2 separate regions of the Homo sapiens genome follow, and region 1 is linked to region 2. Evidence: fine-mapped expression QTL. Tissue or cell type: fibroblasts. Region 2 holds a variant in brackets; the other region holds the start of a gene. All regions are shown on one strand. Distances are from middle to middle.

What was found. PIP is the estimated chance that this variant, and not a neighbour inherited with it, causes the effect.
Region 1: it holds the start of MESD, and the variant in region 2 is fine-mapped to the expression of MESD in fibroblasts (GTEx, PIP 0.93).

The regions. Positions count from the first base shown.
Region 1 is chr15:80,986,111-80,992,854 of GRCh38, reverse strand. MESD (mesoderm development LRP chaperone) reads left to right here and starts at 3,036. Exons shown (of 3, transcript NM_015154.3): 1 at 3,036-3,276. The coding sequence starts at 3,064. RefSeq lists a silencer at 2,763-3,042 and enhancers at 2,793-3,087, 2,727-3,340, 3,073-3,352, 3,341-3,955.
Region 2 is chr15:80,284,018-80,290,761 of GRCh38, reverse strand. It overlaps LINC00927 (long intergenic non-protein coding RNA 927), which reads left to right. Exons shown (of 3, transcript NR_033833.1): 2 at 2,909-2,947. Among named protein-coding and RNA genes, the nearest start is that of CTXND1, 35 kb to the right of the region's middle. The variant C/T (reference allele first, on the strand shown) is at 3,336.

The DNA.
Region 1 (6,744 bases), 700 kb before region 2:
GGCCTCTCCTCCTATGCCTTCCCATGAGTCAGTCATTAGAGGGTTAATGTTTGGCACAATGGTGACTGTACCCATCAGCTCATCTGCCTCAGTTCTGATTAACTGGTAATTGTGCTACTCCAGTTTTTCAACATTTTGAATATTACCCCCGCCTGCTTCCAAATAGTACTAGAAAGTCTTGCTTCACCCTCCTCTGTTGTGGAATGATGCATGCCAGGATGAGCTCAGGTTAAGACACTAATTAGATCTGAGATTCAACTTTACCATCCACAGTCACTGAATCACTTAGAGGTGGGGTTAGTATTAACCCCAGAGCACTGAAGAGACTTGTGGCTTCACTTAGGCCATGAGCACACAATCTTTCACATCTGTCCTCTCCAGTCTACACTGCACCACCTGGTACCTGGCACAGACTCTTGTCCCATCTGAGTGCTCCTCGCTCCAGACTTTTCAATGCATTTTCCATTTGGCTCCCAATTTAACCATCCTGAGTGCCTCACTGATTAACCTAGATGGTGCTGTGGCGGAAGAAGGACTCCAAGAAGACTGGACCTTGTTATCCAGTACACCTCGGCTTAGATTCTTGCCTTGCCGCTGCACTAGCTGTGCAGCCTCAGACAAATTGTGTAATTGTAAAACCAGGATTTCCTCTTATTTAAATTGGAGAGATTATCATCATCATCACATCATCCCTTTGGGCCCGGATCTCCTGTAATCTGCATGAAATTTACTGCATATTGTTTATCTGCTCTGCCAGAGTAAGGATATTGTTATATTCATTTTTGCATCAGTGCCTCACCTGATTCTTGGTTAACAATAGGTCTTTGGTAAATAAAATTCCCCCCAAGTTGAATGGAATCAAGTTCCAAACACTAAAGTAAGTTTCAAATATCCAAATGTTGAAAATGCAATTGATCCAGATGTTTTCATATCAGTGGATTATATGCCGAATTGATTTCCTCCTTAGAGGAAAGTCAGTAGCCCTGAAACTTTCTACACATTCCCAACAATTTCTGTAAAACTTTCAATGATCTTATTCTCTATAACTAGATATGTGGGCCAAGAATCCCAACACGTTTGCCCCTTAACTTTGAAGCTGGCAATATGAATTACCAGGGTGACCCCTCCCAGTAGAGCACATGATCAGCCACAGCTGTGCATGTTTTTTAGTATGACTGCACTAGGATAGGGCTCCAAGCCACTGGGTGGAGCAATGTGCTCTGGGGAGAAAGCTCATGACATTTCCCCTATGATTTCACAAAAGAAAAAATCTTTTTCTTATGAGTTGTTTCTGCTCAACGTCAATAGGAAAGGTCATAGCTTAGCGTGTTTACATACAGATGCATGCATGAATATGTAGAATATCAGCCACTCCTACGGTGTGAGAGAATTTAAATTGCACTGGTCCTAAGAGTGAAGGAAAGCAGGCGTAGTTGCCTACTCAACCTCCACTTTATTCTTTTCCCTTTATAACAATCCTAATTTCATTTGAGATGACAATGTATACAGCTAGAAGACAATTTCTCAGCCTCCCTTGGAGAGCTAGGTTCCAGCCAATGAGATGTAAACAGAAATGTATGCAATGTTCAAGTAGGCTGCTTAAAAGAAGTTGACTCCACTTGAAAGGTGTGCTTGGTTTGGCCTGCCTTCTCCCTTCCTCTGGTTGAATGTCATCTTGATGACTGGAGCTCCAGGAGCCATCCTGGAATTTCTGACCTTGAGGGTGGAAGCCACAGGCTAATATGATAGAAGGATGAGGAAGAGGCTGAGTACCAGATGGCTGAGAAGCCACTATACCAGCCCTAGTTTCGAGTTTACACTGCTTCTGTGAAAGAAAAGTCAATCACAATAAAACCTTTTATCTTGTTTAAACCACCTTAAAAAGTCAGTTTTCTTTTATATGCAGCCTACTAATCCTATCCAAACAAGGCTTGAATAAGGTTTACTACAGCTCTTTTTTGTTGTAATAGCAGAAAAATTGGTAATAAATGCCCATCAATAGGAAAATAAACTATTAATTTAACAATACCAAATAAAACTGTGCAGCAGTATAAAGAATGAAGCGTTTTTTGTTGTTGTTTTTGAGATGCGGGTCTTGCTTTATTGCCCAGTCTGGTCTCAAACTCCTAAACTCAAATTATCGTCCTACCTCAGCCTCCCAAAGTGCTGGGATTATAAAGGCTTAAGCCACCGTGCGGCCTTTGGTTTTTTTTGTTTTTTGTTTTTTAAGGTCTTATGTAATTAAACATTTTAAAGACATCAGCTGATGAGCCGTTTAAAACAAGAAGAATCTCAAAGCATCTTTGGCCAAAATCTTTTTAAGAAACAAAAAGTAGCGTGATTCAGCCTTGAAAAGGATTAGTTAGAGCCTACAGTATTAGGTTGAAATCAAAGAAAGGCAAGCTTTTTTTTTTTTGGATGAATAGTAATGATCTTTTTGGAAAAAAAAAACAAATATTGAAAGCTGGTTGAACTGAATCCTCTTTATTGATGAGGAAAGCAGTGGACTCGAACTATTTATGACTTTCTGAAAAAAGTTGCCCTACCTGCCACTCACTTCTTTTTAACTGGCTGTTCTCAAAGGAAATTGCAAGAGACTGAGGATAAACGTCCGACATCCAGAAATGGGCTTTTTTAGAGCCGAGGCAGCCTCCAGAACTTCCAGTTCCAATTTATTTCACAGGCGAGAAACTGAGGTCAACAGGGACGTTGGTTAGTGGTTCCTGGAGGCCCTGAAGGAACTTTTGGACCTGGCTTGTGCGTTCCAGAGAAAAAGGTCGGCCTCTGACGGAAAACGAAAAATGAGCACTCAGGGACCCACCCAGCCGGGACAGAGCGCCTCAGCCGGACCAAGAGGAGGAGCCAGTGGGGCGGGGCCAAAATGGCGGAGGGGCGGGGCTTCCAGAGGCGGGGGTTAGGAAATGGTACGGGGCGGGGCCCGGTAGGCTAGCGAGGGCCGGGAGGCGGGGCCTCGGAAAGGCGGACAGGAAGGCGTGTGCAAGGCGGGGTCCGGCCCGCGCAGGTCGGGTAAGCGCGTCTAGGGCGCTGCGCGGCGCAGCGAAAATGGCGGCTTCCAGGTGGGCGCGCAAGGCCGTGGTCCTGCTTTGTGCCTCTGACCTGCTGCTGCTGCTGCTACTGCTACCACCGCCTGGGTCCTGCGCGGCCGAAGGCTCGCCCGGGACGCCCGACGAGTCTACCCCACCTCCCCGGAAGAAGAAGAAGGATATTCGCGATTACAATGATGCAGACATGGCGCGTCTTCTGGAGCAATGGGAGGTCCGCGGCGCGCGCACACCCTCCCGGCTCTTCTCTGTGCGGGACCCTGTTCCCTATGACCCCTTACCTGTTCTGTCTTGGGACCTTTCTGACCCCCTAACCTCCTCTACTCATGCCTTGAATCCTTACTGACCCACTGAAGCCACTGTTGACCCTCCATTCCTCCTCTGACCCGCGCGCCCTGCTGACCCTCGCTCCAGCCCTCTGTCATTCCAGTGCCCTGTTCCTCCTGCCATTTCTCAAACCACTTCAATCACGGATCTGCCCCTCACTGTTCAGCTTTGCTCTCCCTTCACCCTTCAGTGCCCTGGTTGTCTTTGCGTTGATTCTTGTGGTCAGTGAGCCCTGCAAACAGGGAGAGTGACCTTTCCCAATCTACTAAAGAGCATTTCCTTCTGTTTTGCGGTGAGTGGGTGGGAGAGTGGGTTGCAGTGAAGATGGTCTTCCTTAATGGTTATCTCAGCTGTCTTCTAAATCAGTATAATTTTAGACTTCCTATTTTGGTATATGTCCCTGCTGGGAATTTTGTGCTTTTTGTGGGTGGATTTATTTTACTGAGGGGAGAAGTATCAATGGCTAATGGCTCTGTATCGTGAAACTCACGCTTTTTGTTCAAAGGAGAGTAAGTTTTCTGGTTTGTCACTTGGACGCACCGGAGTGTGCAGTTACAGGGAGTGTGTAATACGCTTTAAGGTAAAGATTACTGGCCAAAACCACATTGCTGCCTTTTCCCCTTCCTAAGGTGATTGTATCGTCCTGGTTGACTTGCATAGCTGTGGAACCTTGGGCAGGTTATGTCTAGTTTCTAGGCCTCGGTTTCTTTATCTGCAACATGAGGAGGTTAGGATGGGTCCTAAGATTCCTTCCAACACTGATGTTTTGTTATTTTGTGATTATCTCTGTGTGTGTTACGGGAGAAGGGAAAGACTTTCAGACAAGAGTTTAAAATACCACCTGATGCATCTGACTAGAAGAATGCAGGCTTGTGTTTTCATGTGGTCATCAACAGCTGATGGAAAGATTGGGATAGATTTGAGTGTAGAGAGAACGTCCCCATTCACCGTCTCCCTTGCAATCTCCTTGTCTCTTTTTGGACTCCAGCAAATAAAGCCTTTTGATCTGCCAGAGTGAGAACATCACCTCATGAGAAATCCTCCCCTTGACCTACTCAGACCCTGAGCTAGACGAAGAGGGTGCTGAAGAGATGAACAAAGATTGCACTGGGAACAGTAGATAACAGGATGGATGAGTGGGGAGAGACTTTGAAGGCCAAGAAAAACACATTATCTCATTTAATCCTTTTACCCCATCCATGAGGGAGGTACTTATCCCTATTTTCTAGATGATGACATTGAGACACAAAGAGGTTAAATAACTTGCTCCACATCGCACAGCAAGCTAGCTGAGTTTCAAATTCTTTCGCGACTTTTAGAGCCAGTTCTTTGAACTGTTTTACCTGTACTGCCACACATGTTGGTGACAGAAGTGCAAATGAAGGATAGTGAGGAAGACGTGGATTAAGCTAGAAACTGCAGGAGCAGAGTAGAAGGGAGAAATGTGAGATTTTTATACTTTTAACAGGACTTGATGGTTGATTTTGTTTTTTAAATTATTTTTTATAGAGACAGGGTCTCCTTATGTTGGCTGGGCTGGTTTTGAACTCTTGGCCTTTGCAGTCCTCCCACCTTGGCTTCCCAAAGTGTTGGGATTACGGGCGTGAGCCACCATGCCTGGGCAATTGATTGATTTTGTGAATAGCAGGGCCACATAATGTAGTAAAAAGACAGGTTGGCTGGGCGCAGTGGCTCACGCCTGTAATCCCAACACTTTGGGAGGCAAAGGCGGGTGCATCACCTGAGGTCAGGAGTTCAAGACCAGCCTGGCCAACATGGTGAAACTCCATCTCTACTAAAAATAAAAAAATTAGTTGGGCATGGTGGCGGGCACCTGTAATCCCAGCTACTTGGGAGGCTGAGGCACAAGAATCGCTTGAACCAGGGAGGTGGAGGTTGCAGTGAGCCAAGATCATGCCACTGCACTCCAGCCTGGGCGACAGGGTGAGACTCTGTCTCAAAAAAAAAAAAAAAGACAGATTTTGAACTCAGCTTTACCCCTCACTAGCTACTTCATCCTAGTTTTACGTATCTGTAAAGCCAGATAACGCCCTACTTTGCAGGGTGCCATGCGGATTAAATGAGTTAATGTTTGTAGACGCTCTACAGACATGAGGACTCTTCCCCAGTAGCAGTGTTTTTTATGTGGGAGAGCGTATCCATCTCTGTGGGTGCTTTTTTTGTAGGAAGCAGTTCTTCTCCTCTTGTGACCATCTCTAAATCCATACCCTCACTCCTTCCCCAGCAGTGTGAGAAACAGTGCTTCAGTGAGAGGCTGTGCCTCAGAGGTGTGGAGAGGTGAGAATTCCTTCCATTGTGTTACAACTAATTCTGAGTCCCAATTGGTGTAGAAAAACCAAAGGTGGTTATTACATTTTACATTATGATAGCCAGGTATAATGGGAAGAGGCAGTTGGAGGGATTTGGAGCCAGAAATGTGGTTTGCACTTCTAGCATGTGAGTAAATTAAGTAAATCATTTATCCTCTCTGAACATCATCTTCCTTGTATATTAAATGGAACCGGGTAGGATTGTTCTGAAGGTTGGAGATAATATATGTAGAGTGCCTGGGACTTAGTAGCTACTTAGTAGATGTCACTTATTATTAATATCAAGAACCATGGGAGGAAGAAGAGGATTTGCAGAAAGGGGAGCTCAGCTTTGTAGCTACTGACTTAGACAAACAGTAATGAAGGAGCTCTAAAGCCAGTTGAAAATGCAAGACTGGCCTGGAGGCAGGGCTAGGACTGGAGTCAGGGGACTGCCTGACTTGTCCCTGGCCCCCCGCTCTGCCTCAGGGTAAAGACTGGATTGTTTTCAGCATAAACACACTGATCATAACAGGTTAGGTTACCCAGACTAAGGGTAGAACTGGATAATTATGTACATCTAGGGTACTATTTTTACACTTCAATTTTAACATATAATAATTATACATATTTATGGGGTACAGAGTTGTATTTCTACACATGTATAAAATGTAATGGTCAATTCAGGGTAATTAGCATATCTGTCTCCTAAACATTAATCATTTCTTTGTGTTGGGAACATTTAAAATTCTCTCCTAGCTGTTTGAAAATATGCAATAAATTATTGTTAACTATAGTCATCCTACAATGCTATAGAGCACTAGAATTTATTCTTCCTATCTAATGTAATTTTGTATCCATTCACCATCCTCTCTCCCTATCTCCCCTCCACTTCCCAGCCTCTAGTAACCACAATTCTAATCTCCACTTATGTGAACACAACTATTTTAGGTCCGCATACGAAGGAGAATGCGCGGTATTTGTCTTTCTGTGTCTGGCTTATTGCACTTAACATAATGTCCTCCAGGCTCATTAGGGTACTATTT
Region 2 (6,744 bases):
TACCACTGTTAAAAATACCCAGCCAATTTCATGTTAAATTTGCTCCTATGTATTTTCTAAATTGCATTGCTATCTGTTGATAGAGTCTATTACATTTTCTATCTAGTTATTCCTAGAACAACTATGGATTTTTGAATGTTTACTTTGTAACCAGCCACTTTATATTAACTCTTCTAGTTTTTCTACTTCTCTCAATTTTCTAGGTAGGCAATTAAATTACCTGTCAGCAAGTCTTGGTACTTTTTCCTACTTCTTCACGATCACACTTCTTTCACTTTCTTAGCTGATTGATAGAGAACTTTCAAGAACAGAGTATTGATAACAGTCATCTTTCTTTTGTTTCTGGCTTTAAGGAGAGAGCCATCATACATTCCTGTCGGTTTTGAGAGTTATTCCCCCTTGTGCTGAAGAATCCTTTTCCTTCCAGATGCGTCCAATCTCCAGTCCAGCTCTCACAGCTTTCCTTGGGGAGACAGCAGTGAATGCAATGTGCAGAAGCCAGGCCCCTCCCCACTGCATTTCCTTTGTTTTCTGCATTTTCTGCACTTCCTGCACCTCCTTCAGTGCTCTGAAGATACTGGATGTAGAATTATGGCAAAAATTAGGCTAGGACCCAGACCACCTCCCTGACAGCACCTGTGGACAAAGGAAAGCCTGCCAGAGGGTATGGCTGGTTGGGCAGAGGCTCTGGTCACATGACACAGAGACAGGGAGAGGTGGAAAGTGCTCACCTCTTTCGGAGCTCTCAGTTTACTGGAAGGAAACCCTGGATGGGCGTTTCTTCAGTCCAGCTGCATCTGCCTCAGGTCACCCAGAAGTCTCCACTTTCTTGCCTATTTCTTTTTTGGCTGGTTGAGACTTTTTTGACTGGATCTGCCGCTCCTTTATGAACTGACCTGACATTTGCCTCTTACCTGCTACAGAGCTCCTCTTGCCTCCAAGCCGCTCTGGTCTCAGTGAGAGGTCACCCCCTCCTGCTTCTCCTCCCTAGTGTATAGTCGACCTGAACCTAGTCTGTATTCAGCAGGCTTTCCCTGCAGGCTTGGCGTGTGGGAGGGAAGATTGCTTCCTGCAAAAGTAAACAACTCAAACAGAATATTATATCCTTGCTCTAAGATTCTTCAGTGACTCCTGACAGGGCATTTCTCATTCAGAATTTGAGCCGTGTCTACTTTGCTCTTTCTCTGTCTTGACATCACCACTTCCCTCTGTTTTTCAAATCCATGTCTCCCCAAAGACTTTCCCACAAGCTCCAAAGTCCTCCTCATTTCTGCTGTCACAGGGCAGGCTCATCCAGGCTTTGCAAAACCTAACATAGCCCACAAGATCTTGACTTAAATAAAAGAACTCTCAACCTCAGCAAAGACTCTTCCCACTGCCCTAGACACCTTCTAGGTGTCCCCAGCAGCTTAAGGGTTTTGTTGTTGTTGTTGTTTGTTTGTTTGTTTGCTTTTTGGTGGAGTCTCGCTCTGTCGCCAGGCTGGAGTGCAGTAGCGTGATCTCGGCTCACTGCAATCTCCGCCTCCCGGGTTCAAGTGATTCTCCTGCCTCAGCCTCCGGAGTAGCTGGGACTACAGGTGCACACCACCACATCCATCTAATTTTTTGTATTTTAGTAGAGAAGGGGGTTTCACCATGTTAGCCAGAATAGTCTTGATCTCCTGACCTCGTGATCCACCCACCTCAGCCTCTCAAAGTGCTGAGATTACAGGCATGAGCCACCGGGCCCAGCCAGGATTTTTTTTTTAACAAGTTTATTTTCCCCTTCCAATTATACTTATTAATATTGGGATTCCTTCTAGAATTTTAGAAATAGGTTGACCTTCAGACTTATTTTCTCAATGGGTAGTTAGTGCTGGGTTCTCGATCTCTCTGGTTTAGTCTGCAAGTATTTTAGTGGCAAGTCATCAAGGCAAGTCGGAATCTGCTCACTAGACACCTGTTCGCATCACACATCCAGAGACTCATTCCTAGTCCTCAAATGCATGTTTGCTGAAAGATGTACTGGGGACTTTGTGTGAGGATGGCTGCTTCATACCTGCAGCTGACTCAGGGTCATGGTAAACTATCAGCTTGAAGTGTGTGACTTCTCATAGGCACTATCTACCCCAGGCAGCTATTCAGTGCAGAAGAGCTCATGAAATGTTATGGCTGAGAGTGTTAATTGTCCCCCACTATTTGTTCTCCCTTTAACAACTGTCTATTGCTGTGTGACAGCCCACTCTAAAACTTAGTGGCTTAAAACAAGAATTTAGAATTTCTCACGGTTCAGTGGGCTGGCTGGGCTCAGCTAGGCTGTTCTGCAGAATGTGGTATGGACAGCAGACACTCATGCAGTTACACTTAGCTAGTAGCTAAATCTGGTGCCTTAGCTGCAGTGGCTAGAATAGGTCGGAGCTCTCTGGCCCTCCTCTTTCTCTCTCTCTCTCTCTCTCTGTCTCTCTCTCTCTCTCTCGGCAGTCTCTCATCATTCAATCATCTTGTCTGAGCTTATTTATATGGAGCTGGATCCCAGAATAGTGACAGAGAAAGCTGCCAGGCCTCTTAAGGGCTAGGTCTAGAAACGTCACCTGATTTTACTGGTTAAAGAGAGTCCCAGGACAGCATCAACAGAATGTGTTGACAAGAGACTTGTTAGCATAATGGCCTTGTGACCAGAGCCACCATAATGGCCTAGACTTTTTGGAGAGCAAAATAAGTCTCTGTCATTCTGCATCTTTGTTTTACATCTCTGTTGTTTGGGGTGTCTGTTATATGCAGTTGAGCTTATTTTCCAAGTAATACACATGTGTTCTAATAGAAAATCCCTCTATAGAAAAATCCTTCTATTTGAATTTCCATTTTTCCTTAGCTCTGTTTTATTTTGTATTTACACAAATTTATTTATTATACATTTTATATTTTATAGGTATATTTGTAAGCCGAGTTGAATGCTTTGTGGAGAGAGGTAAGTACATTTTACAATTAGATCTTAGAAGTAAAATCATTTGTAAACATTACAGCACCATGCTACTCTAAGAAGTTGCCATTACTCCAATAATGATAGTTTCTCACATCCTTAGACAAACTTAAGACCCAGCATAATTCCCCAAGTTCCTTCTAGATCTCAAATATTTACTCCTTGGTCATATGCCATGCCCCACTCTCTAAATCAGCCTACTTGATTGTTTTATCTTCTATTTAAAAAAAGGTAACATAAAATTTGCCACCCTAACCAGTTTAAGTATACCATTCAGTAGTGTTAAGTAGATTTCCACTGTCACACAGCCAATCTCCAGAACTTTTTCTCTTGTAAAACTGAAACTCAGTACCTGTTAAACAACAGCTCCTCATTC[C/T]CTCTTTCCCCATGCCCTCGCAACCACCATTCTGTGAATTTAACTACTCTAGGTACCTCATGTGATGTAATCATGTAGTATTTGCCCTTTTGTGATTCATGTATGTCACTTAACATAATGTCTTCAAGGTTCTTCCACATTGTAGCTTATGTCATAATGTCATTTTTAAGGCTGAATGGTATTCTATTGTATCTATTAATATCTACCACATTTTGTCCATCTATTCATCCCTAGGACATATGGGTGCTCCCACCTCTTGGCTTCTATGCAGCCTGCCTTCTCTTTTCCCTGACTTCACCTTTTCACACACACCTGTGCACCAGCACCTTAAGCCCAAACTTTCATTCCTGAACTCATAACCAGGTCAATTAACTAGCTCTGACCATTTGCATGTCCCACACTGGGTGATGACCCTCTGTTTGGTCCTCCACAGGGAGATGGGCGATTGTCCCCACACACAAGCAACAATGAATTGCATTTAAAATGAAGGGCAACATCATACTCTAATATTCTTCTCCTTTTCTGATTTTGCTTGGGCTCCATAAATGGACAGGTGACAGTGTCCTCAGAGATCGTGAGGGTGAGGGTTAAATGCAGACATGAGGGCTGCGGAAAAGCAGTGCATCTGATGCCCTTCACGAGAATTGTAAATGAGTCCCCCTTCTCCCAAACTCTCTGTGGGGAATGGCTTCTGGTGATTGGGCATCCCTGTGGTCTCAGGTCATTATCCAACGTCTATGGGAGGGGTGCTCCGTTAGATCCAGAGAGAGAATAGTGGGGGAACTAACCAGGGAGAGTGGCCCAGTGGCCAGGACCCAGTGTCAGAGGGAGTAGATCATCTCATCCCTACTTCCAGGAATAGTGAAAGCCAGATGGTGCAACCAAGACAGCATGGCTCACACTGGAGACTCTAGGGGCCAATAAAGTATTCAGAAAACATCCACTAGGTATTAAGTCCTATGCCAGGTACTAAGAGCCCAAAAGTAAAAAGGGCATAGTTCCTGCTACCGAAGAACTAACAGTCCATGGAGGGAACAGGCTTGTAACTAAACAACTGCAAGACACTAAGTGTCACTCAGGAAGGAGCTGTTGCAGGATGGGAAGACCCGGGCTAGACTACTTCCCTGGCCTGGGGCCTTGGCAGGGTAGGAGTTTGGCAGGCCTGAGAGGATGGCTGGAAGGATTTCCGACAGAGGGGAGAGCATATGAGAAGTCAAAAATGCACAAAGAGGCACAGCGATGACGCCATGTGCCTGGAGAGAAGGGGCCAAGACAGAAATGGCAAGATGGGAGCTGCAGCAGATCAGAGCGCAGTGTGGGTGTCCTTGAGGGGTGTTGGGTTGCCACGTGGTAGATGCTGCTAAAGAAGGGGCCCAATGTCAGACTTGACGGAGAAGTTCCTTCCAACTGTAGGAGGACAGACAGAGGGGTCAGGGAGACTGGAACCAGGAGGACCAGTTAGGAGACTATGACAGACTCCATTTCAACCTAGTCATTGAATCCAGAGAGTAAACTCTGCTTCCTCCCAAATTCTTGTTGAATTTTAAGATATATTTTTTAAAGTTCTTAAAAGAAAAAAACAAACTCTGCATATATGCCAGATAAAAATGAAAAGGTGTCATCAATAAGCCAGAAAGAAAGGAAACTTCTTCAGGTGTTGCTAGAGACTAATAATGTGTCCACCTGTCCAGGATTCTTTACCCACGGCTTCCTTCTCCCAAGGAGGCACGGTGGAGGCTGGAGTGAGGGTGGCATGGAGCAGATCGAAGTCTTCAGAACAGCCCAGGGCCTGCTCTCATGGTGAAGGCCACGAGGCTCCCTGGAGCCTGCCCCTTGTGCAGGCATGAGCTGGGTAACGCGGGGGCCCTGCTGAGGCAGGATGTCCCATTCGCCTCACCATGAGCCACCACAGCTATCAGAAAAGCAACTGCCCATCCTGCTGAGGACACTTCTCTGCCACAAGGCTCTGCGTTCCTACTCCTGCTCTTGGCCCACCAGACCTCCAAGAAGCAACCTAAAAACACACACACACACAAAACATGAGCTTCCCTTCCCGTTTTATGCCAGAGAGATCCCATATGAACCCTCAGTACTGGACAAAATGAAGATGAGCAAAGAGAAAAATGGACAGATGCCACCATTTCATGTATCAAATACTGACGTGGTGATGCAAGAGTCAGGATTGTTTTAAAGTCTACATGAATATTAAACTCATCTATTTACAATGACAGCCCTGTGAGGCAGGTGCTATGGTGGTCCCCATTTTACAGATGTGGTAGCTGAGACTCAGAGCAGTTAAGTCACTTGCCCAAGGCCACACAGCTCCACATGGTGGGATTGGTCTTGAGACCAGGGAGTTAGTCTGGCCACAGAGCCTGTGCCGTTCACCCTCATACATGCTGCTTCCCTAAGCAGGAACCAATCTGATAGATAAAAGCACAATCCCCCCCTCCCCCCAATAAAACAGATTTATTTTTTTTAAAATAGGAAAATATCTTCCCTAAATCTCCAATTTCTCTTTTTGATGATAATACATAATAGAAAAATATATATGTAAATATGCAGAGAAAAGAATCTGACAACAAGAAAGATTTAGATGCAAAATACATGGTCGAATTTTAAAATGCAGAGATGAGCAAAGTTAGGGAAAACAGGCCGGGCGAGGTGGCTCACACCTGCTATCCCAACACTTTAGGAGGCTGAGGCGGGTGGATCACCTGAGGTCAGGGGTTTGAGATCAGCCTGGCCAATATGGTGAAACCCCATCTCTACTAAAAATACAAAAATTAGTTGGATGTGGTGGCACGCCCCTGTAATCCCAGCTACTCAGGAGGCTGAGGCAGAAGAATTGCTTGAACCCAGGAGGCAGAGGTTGCAGTGAGCCAAGATCACACCACTGCACTCCAGTATGGGAGACAGAAGAAGACCAAAAAAAAAAAAAAGAAGAAGAAAAGTTAGGGAAAACATTCAGTGGGGAGAGAGAACAGATTGGGTTCTGCAGAAACAGCATCGCAGAATAATAAGATGAACACAGTCACATTTCCCACAATGTAAGAGAAAAGAACCGATGCAAGATGTAAAGATAAAGGTATAAGACTGGGTATTTATAGCTCCAGCAAATAGACGAAAGTAATCCCAGAAATAGAGAACAGAAGGGATGGGGAAGGAACAATCGTAAAAGAAAAAACAAAACACACACACACACCAAAAAAAAAAAAAAAATTGCTGCCCTGGAAAAAAAAAAAAGGCAAGATTAAAAAAACAAAGACAATGAAAATAGACTAATACCCAGACATATCCAAAATAAAAAAATAAATGTACAAGCACTCAGTTTGGAAGGGAGGGAAGCTGGGATAAAATTAACTGTCAAGGGTGAAAGGTGAAATCAGGGTATTGCTCCACAGTGCTA